2 linked regions of the Homo sapiens genome follow. The protein of the gene in region 2 purifies or fractionates together with the protein of the main gene of each other region. This does not show direct contact. Each region holds a gene or a part of one and is shown on either strand. Other genes may lie near its edges.

The links.
Region 1: the proteins of PLEKHA6 (region 2) and PPP2R2B purify together in Homo sapiens (co-immunoprecipitation; one large-scale study listed by IntAct). This does not show direct contact.

Annotation. Positions count from the first base shown.
Region 1 is NC_000005.10:146,581,568-146,585,387, forward strand, and holds part of PPP2R2B (serine/threonine-protein phosphatase 2A 55 kDa regulatory subunit B beta isoform), read right to left. Parts: 3' UTR 1-3,820. UniProt on the Homo sapiens protein: The B regulatory subunit might modulate substrate selectivity and catalytic activity, and might also direct the localization of the catalytic enzyme to a particular subcellular compartment.
Region 2 is NC_000001.11:204,349,657-204,353,476, reverse strand, and holds part of PLEKHA6 (pleckstrin homology domain-containing family A member 6), read left to right. Parts: intron 1-2,493; exon of another isoform or gene 2,494-2,535; coding exon of another isoform or gene 2,536-2,597; intron 2,598-3,820.

The sequences.
Region 1 (3,820 bases), on a different chromosome or scaffold from region 2:
AACTGTTGTCCTTCTTCTCGTCAGGGAGGAAATGAGGGGTTTAAATAAATGCACCATTGACCACCTTCTGCCTTTTTCCTGTTAGAGTCCAGCATAGACTGAAAGGCCATTCCGCAGTGTATTTCAGATCAGTTCTGTATTGTGGCTTGTATGTAATATGACTCACTTTACTTTCCTTTACGGAGAAATAGATTGTCTTTAATATGCAACTATGATTGTTTGCTGTTCTCTTTATATATTCAGGCTGAGTCTTCATAAGCCACCTGCATTTGGAGTTGAAAACCAATGGTCTAGATGAAATATGACTTTCAATTATGCCACAGTCAGAGAAGCTGAAATAAGAAAGCCACACTGGAGGAAGTCAAGTTTATCTTATTGGAGTGAATTGGGCATGTAGAATAAAATCCAGCATTCACTCAGCACACAGCCCCACTGACCCTATTGTTCATCCCCCTCCAATTTATTGTTGTATTTCCCAGCTGCCCACAGAGCTTCCCCTGCAATATTGTGGACACCCAGGCAAATGAAAATGCCAATCTTCTCCCATCCCTGTCTTGCTGTATTAGGCATGTGCTCAGCTCTGAAAGATTTCTTTGGGGGTCTTGCCTTTCCCTAAGAACATCTAGGGGAAGGTTTGTCTCACCTCTTGTTTCCAAGTGGGAGGGTTGAGAATAATAGCTCTTGTCACTTCCCTTTGCCTTGTTATGGGGAATATTTAGTGCTGCAGCCTGGGTGTGGGGGCAATATCTTGGATGTGATAATGTTGCTTCCTGCATCAGTGAACATGGTATTGATTGTAAGCTGTCAACCTTTCTGCATGCTTTTCAGGGTCCCAGAAGGCTAACTACTGCAGGGAAGGTAATGCATCAGGCAGGGACACATATGCTCTATTAACTAACACTGCAATCTAAGCTTGATCACTTGCTTTTAACACATCTTGGCTCACTGGCTCCCAATTTTTTCTTAATTCCCTGACTCCTCTGAGCAGTCCTCTGATGCCCTGTTTGGATCTCCATATATCATTCAAACTCCCAATGGCATGCCGCTCATCTTATAAGCTTCCTGTGGGCAAGTGCTGTGCCTGACTTCCTTACACGTTTATTTGTTCATTCATTCAACAAAACTTTTGAGCACCTACTATGAGCCAGACAATGTTCTGTGCTCTGGGGATACAGGAGTGGCCTAAACAATGATGCAGTCCTCATGGAACTAAGGGTGGTTGAGAAAGCATCTCTGAGGAGGTGACATTTGAGCTGAGTTTATCAGTATATCCCCTGTGGCTGGACTATAAGTATTTGCGAAGTTTGGAAACCATATTTCCTCATTTTAGTGCCTCATAGCCTGGCTATTGGAGAAGCTCCTGATATGTGAACCACACTAAGTCCATGCATTATTATTTTTCAGATCATGCATTATTGCCCACTCACCTTACCATGTCTCCTTATTTCTCTTGGTCTGCCTTCCTACTTTTTACTAATCAGTCATACCAGAGTGTTGTGAATTCCATATATATATAGCATATGCTGTTTTGCCTCCACTGTCCTATCCTGATGTCTGGAATATGCTTTTCCTTTCTCTTCTCCTGGATAACTCACTCCCTTTATCTTTCGGATTTCACCTTGGGAATCACCTCCTCTGGGAAGCTTCTGGTCTGGATGAGTTAGTGCTCCTTTGTGTCCTCCTGGCACCCAGACACATCCATCATAGTGCATATGTTTTATAGGATTAGCAGAACTGTAGCAAGAAATGTGCACTGAATGCATATTTGTGGGCCAGGCATCCTTCTAAGAGCTTTGTGCATATTAAATCATGCAATCTTCACAGCAATTTTATGAGATAGATGTCGTTTTTATCCTTATCTCATAATGAGAAAATCGAGGCACAGAGAGGTTGTCATTTTTCTAGGTTGCTCAGCTTTTACATGGTGGAGCTCAGATTTTAACCCAGGCAGGCAGGCTGGCAGGCTCGGTATCCTGGGCTCTTGACATTCCACTGCCACCATTGCCTGTGAGTTTGTCTGCACCTCCCGCTATCTGTGAGCTGTGTGAAGATGGAGCTGTCACTGCTGCTTCCACAGACCACCCTGGCATGGGCTTGGCAGGCAGTACATGAACAATCATTAACCATTTAGTAAATGAATGAATGAATGCATGAAATTCGCCCAACTGAGCAACTGTTTAGAGTTCCAAAATGTTGCTTTTCCTTTTACCACTGAGGAAAGCCCCTGTTCCCTTCTACTCCAGCTTCCTCAGTCTTCCATGACTCCCACAAGTATGTATTACTCTGGCTGGAAGGGAGGGCATCCCTAGCCAACCAGAGCAAGAATCACAGCAATCATGGCTTGTTCCTACAATTTCTGGGTTTCTGTCAAATATGAGTTATGAAGAAGTGTCCTCTCCACTCTTTCTCAAACCAAATACAGCAGCCAAAATGATTGGAGTGGCAACTGAGAGGGCTTGAGATGGGCAAGCAGGAGCTGTTCAGTGGGCACTGTTCACCCAGGAAAACCCAGGTTGACTTTTTGGGGAATGAGCAGCAGGGGCGGGAAGGCTGGGAGTGGACTGGGATCTGTCTTGGCAGTGGCTAAGCCCCTTCTTCTGGCCTGACAGTGATCATTGCTTTGATTGCAGCTGAGGCAGGGATCAGCGGAGATGGCAGATCATGATGGTTCTGCCACCAGCAGTTTAACCAATGGGGCATGGAATATCTAAATTGGGGGACAGTTAATCAGTCATAATAAGGTCAAAGTCAGAAGTTGGAGACCTGTGAGCCACTTGACTTCACTCTCTGCTTTGATGACAGACCAAATTTGTATTCTTGGTCAGCTGTCAGGCAATATTTAGTCACAGAGAAATGGCGTGTTTGTGAGTATCCACGCTAGGGAAAATAATCAAGCCAAGGTAACTCTGCATTACCAATAACTGTGATGGAAGAAGTATAGGATCTGGAACAGGATAGATCTAGATAAAACTTCCTGCTACGTCATCTAACCCTTTTGAGTCTGTTTCTCGCTATAAAAATGGAATAATACATCTACCTATCAGGTGATTAACAATGATTTAAAACAGTGCCTCTCCCAATGCCTGTCATTGCAATAACTACTCAGGAAATATTGGTTTCCTTTTATTCTTTCCGTCTACTTTACACTTAAATACAGTGCTTAAAATAAGGTTTAATAAATATTTGTTATTGGATGAACAAAAGGAAAAAGGGGTAGGCTAGTTCTAGTATGTCGAAAATGTGTTTCTAATGGAAGGAGAGAAACATTGGCTTTCTGTTTCCATGCCATATGGATTTTGCTTCATATTCTGGTATATGTTGGTCTACCTATTGGAAACGCTGTATCATGCTTTGTTGAGCAAATTTAGTTAAAATTCTGCTTAGATGACACATTCTGAGAACCTTTTCTTATCACTCATTGATTAACTATTTCTTCCTCTGTATGACTTCTGCCCTTCATAGATATCTCATTGTAAAAATGTTTACAGTATGCAAATATGCACTTTCTCCTATGTGAGTGTCATCTCTTGGAGGGCAGGGGCCAGTGGTTTAAATATCTTAGTAACTCCAGCCCCTTGTCTAGAACCTGGCTGCCTGACACATCCCAGGCAACCAATGAATCTTTAATTCATTGAGCTTATGGGTCATTACTGGGGCTTGTTTTCTGATCAGTAACTTCCATCTACATGCATACACACACACACACACACACACACACACACACACACACACACATAATGTATGATGGGGATAGTGGATAAGAACTTTAACTAAAACTGCCTGGCTTTGTCACTTGTGAACTGTGTAAATTTGGTTGTCA
Region 2 (3,820 bases):
ATCCTGCCAACTCTCCCCACAACTATGAGTGATTACAGGGCAGTACTTAGCACATAGTAGGTGCTCAACAAATGTTGGTTGGATATATGAAGCTTTGGATGGGAGGGTTAGGCCCCAAGGAGCAGGCACAGAGAAACACTCATGAGAAAGCCTTGGGTGAGGGCAGTGGTGGGGAATTTATTCCCTGTTCTCCTCAGCCTTGCCTCTCACTCCACTGTACTTCTTCAAGGCAAGAGATGGCCTGATTTGTCTTATTTGTATCTGTGATGTTTCACGCAGAGCCAGTCACAAAATGGTTGGTAACTGCTTTTTGATTGGCTGAGTGAATGAGACAGGGTGATGTGGTAGAGACAGCATGGAATTAAGTGGTGGGTAGAACTTGGGAGCCTGGCCCTACCATTTGCTTTGGGTACATACTTACTGCATGCTCCTTATGTACCAGGCAGGTACTAGGTTGCAAAAATGAATTTTTATTTTGATTTATTTATTTTTGAGATGGGGCCTCACTCTGTCCCCCAGGCTGGAATGCAGTGGCATGATCATAGCTCACTGTAGTCTCCACCTCCTAGGCTCATGCAGTCCTCCCACCTCAGCCTCCTGAGTAGCTGGGACCACAGGCATGCACCACCACACCTGGCTGATTATTTTATTTTTTGTAGAGACAGAGTCTCACTTTGTTGCCCAGGCTAGTCTTAAACTCCTGGGCTCAAGTGATCCTCCTGCCTCGGCCTCCCAAAGTATTGGGACTACAGGCGTGAGCCACTGTGACCGGTCAAAAAAAAATTTTTAAACTCACGCTCTTGTAAGGGAGCAGATGAGTGAGCAAACGACCATGCTGTATATGATACAGACATATGCTACATATGTTGGTGGCCAAAAAAGAAAAGGATAGACTCTCCTAGGAGGTTCCCCAAGGCAGAAACCTTAAGCCGGGTCTCAGCTTGGGAAAATTACTTAACCTCTCTGGGTCTCTGTTTCCTAAGCTATCCTGTTAGGAGACTGAAGTCTCCGCAGCGGCAAGGAGTAAATGAAATAAAATAATATGAAGAAAACATGTGGCACTGGATAGTCTTTTTTTCTTTTTTCTTTTCTTTTTTTTTTTGAGACGGAGTCTCGCTCTGTGGCCCAGGCTGGAGTGCAGTGGTGCGATCTTGGCTCACTGCAACCTCTGCCTCCCAGGTTCAAGCAATTCTCCTGCCTCAGCCTCCTGAGTAGCTGGGATTACAAGGCATGCGCCACCATGCCGGGCTAATTTTGGTATTTTTAGTAGAGATGGGGTTTCACCATGTTGGCCAGGCTGGTCTCAAATTCCTGGCCTCAAGTGATCTGTCTGCCTTGGCCTCCGGAAGTGCTGGGGTTACAGGTGTGAGCCACCACACCTGGCCTAAATAATCTTTTTTTTTGAGACAAAGTCTCACTCTGTCACCCAGGCTGGAGTGCAGTGGCGAGATCTCGGCTCACTGCAACCTCCGCCTGCCAGGTTCAAACGATTCTCTTGCCTCAGCCTCCTGAGTAGTTGGGATTACAGACATGCACCACCACGCCTGGCTAATTTTTGTATTTTTAGTAGAGATGAGTTTTTACCATGTTGGGCATGGTGAAACTTAATAACTTAATAAAAGTTAAAAATGTCACCTTGAAACCAGGCCTGGGATTGGTTGGTGGGAGGAGCTTGGGGAGGGCAGGAGCTGAAGGAATTCCAGGAAGCTGGTCCCTACACAGCCTCACCCTGTCTCTGCTGGTTAGTACCTGTGCAGCCTTGAGTAAGTCCCTCACCTTCTCTAAGTCTCAGGCACTCTATCTGCGAAGTGAGGATAATATGATTGTTGTATGGCTCAATTGAGAAACTTCACACAAGTCACCTACAACATGCTAGGCACATAGTAAGTACTAGAAAATATTAGCTCTTCCTTATGATTTTTACCACCATATTTCACAGAGAGACCACATCTGCACGCTGACACACGCATGTTGCATATGTGTGGACTCCTGGATATGCTCAGGAAGGGCGGAGGGTGAGAGGGCCTGGGGTTAGGCTGAATGACAGCTGGCTGCTGCTCAGCCTGAGAAGCCTTCCTGGAGGTGAGGCGACCGGAACTCTGTAGAGAAGGTGGGAGGGGTCGGGTTCGGCTTGGGTGATGGAACTGGGGAGGACGGCTTGTGGTTCATGCCCAAGTTGGGGGAGCCTGCTTCATGGGAAACATGTCAAAGGGAAAGGTGGCCCCTGACAGCAGGAACTTAGTTATCTCAGGCACGTAGGCCACCTCCCCCCCGCCACACCCCACTCCCCCTGCCTGGGCCAGTCCTGCCAGCAGCATCCCAGCTGCTCGGTAGCCCGGCTGGTCCCCTGACCTTCCTAAGCAAGGCAGCCTGGCGGCCATGCTGGGTTGCCGTGGTAACTGGCGGCCTCCCAGCTGGGTTGCCCGGGTAACCGGTTAGCTGGCGTTCGGAGAGGAGGGTGGTGAGCTGGGGGAAGTCAGCCTCAAAAGAGGCAGAGAAGGACAAGGGCTGGACAAGGAGGAAGACAGATCCCAGATGCCCCCAGCACAGCCCTCTCCTCTCTCCCTCGTGGGACTGGGAAAGCCAGAAAAAGGCAGGTAGGAAAGAATGTTGTGCTGTTTCCGACCCTTTGTGTGTATGTTTTGCAGTGTGAGTCGTCTTGGCCTTCATGGGACGTTTAGGGGATTTGACAGGGCGGCTCAGGAGCTAACCCTGGCAGTGATAAAACCAGGGGCCATCCAAACCAAGACGTCAGTCCTGGTCCTCCCCCCGCCCCCATCTCCCAGACAATTTTACCTCTTTGAGCTTTGATTTCTTCATCTGTAAAATGGAGAGAACTTGGACCTCCAGAGCACACGTTTGGGAGCAGTGCCTGGCACCGTCAGCGGTGGGTTCCTTCCTCTCCTTCCATAGTGATTTTTGATTTGGTGGCTGCTTTCCAGCCTGTGAAGAGCTTGCACTAGAGGCCAACCCTGCTCTGAGCCCAGCCCTGCGGAGGGGATGGTGGTGGGATGGTTGGAATTCTTGACAAATTAGAGACATGGCTCTTACCTCAAGGAGTTTACCAGCTCACTCTGCTGAGGGCAGAACACAAGTTACACAGGTTGGAACATCTGCAAGAGCAAGAAAGGTTTTTTTATTTTTGTTTTTGTTTTTGAGACACGGTCTTACTCTGTCACCCATGCTGGAGTGTCCTGGTGACATCATAGCTCATTGCAGCCTTGACCTCCCTGGCTCAAGCCATCCTCCCACCTCAGCCTCCCAAGGAGCTGGGACTACACGTGCTTGCCACTGTGCCCAGCTAATTTTTGTATTTTTTGGTAGAGACGGTTTCACCATGTTGTCCAGGCTGGTCTTGAACTTCTGGGCTCAAGTGAGCCATCTGCCTCAGCTTCCCAAAGTGCTGGGATTACAGACATGAACCACTGCGCCTGGCCAGAATGTTTTAAAAGGAAGACATCGAAATTTTTGACTGCAACCAGTAGAAATACATTCCAGGAGCACATGCGTGTTACCCTTACTGTAAGTGGTGCATGTCATATTGCAGTCTTGTCTGGCCTATACATATTTATTTTTAAAGATAGTCTTCACCCTTCAACTTGCTTTCGCACTCACAGATGAGTCACTTCTTTCAGTGAAACACTGAGACAGCATGCGCACTAAGGCTCTTCAGGTATGTATAGGCCCTCCCCCACTGCTCTCACCTTCCAGGTGCCATCACCTGGGGCATCCTCGCCACTCTGATCTATGAAGTCAACGAGACTGAGAAGTCTCATGACTTGCCTAGGGCCAGAAGCAGCAAGTCCTGGAGCCAAGGCTC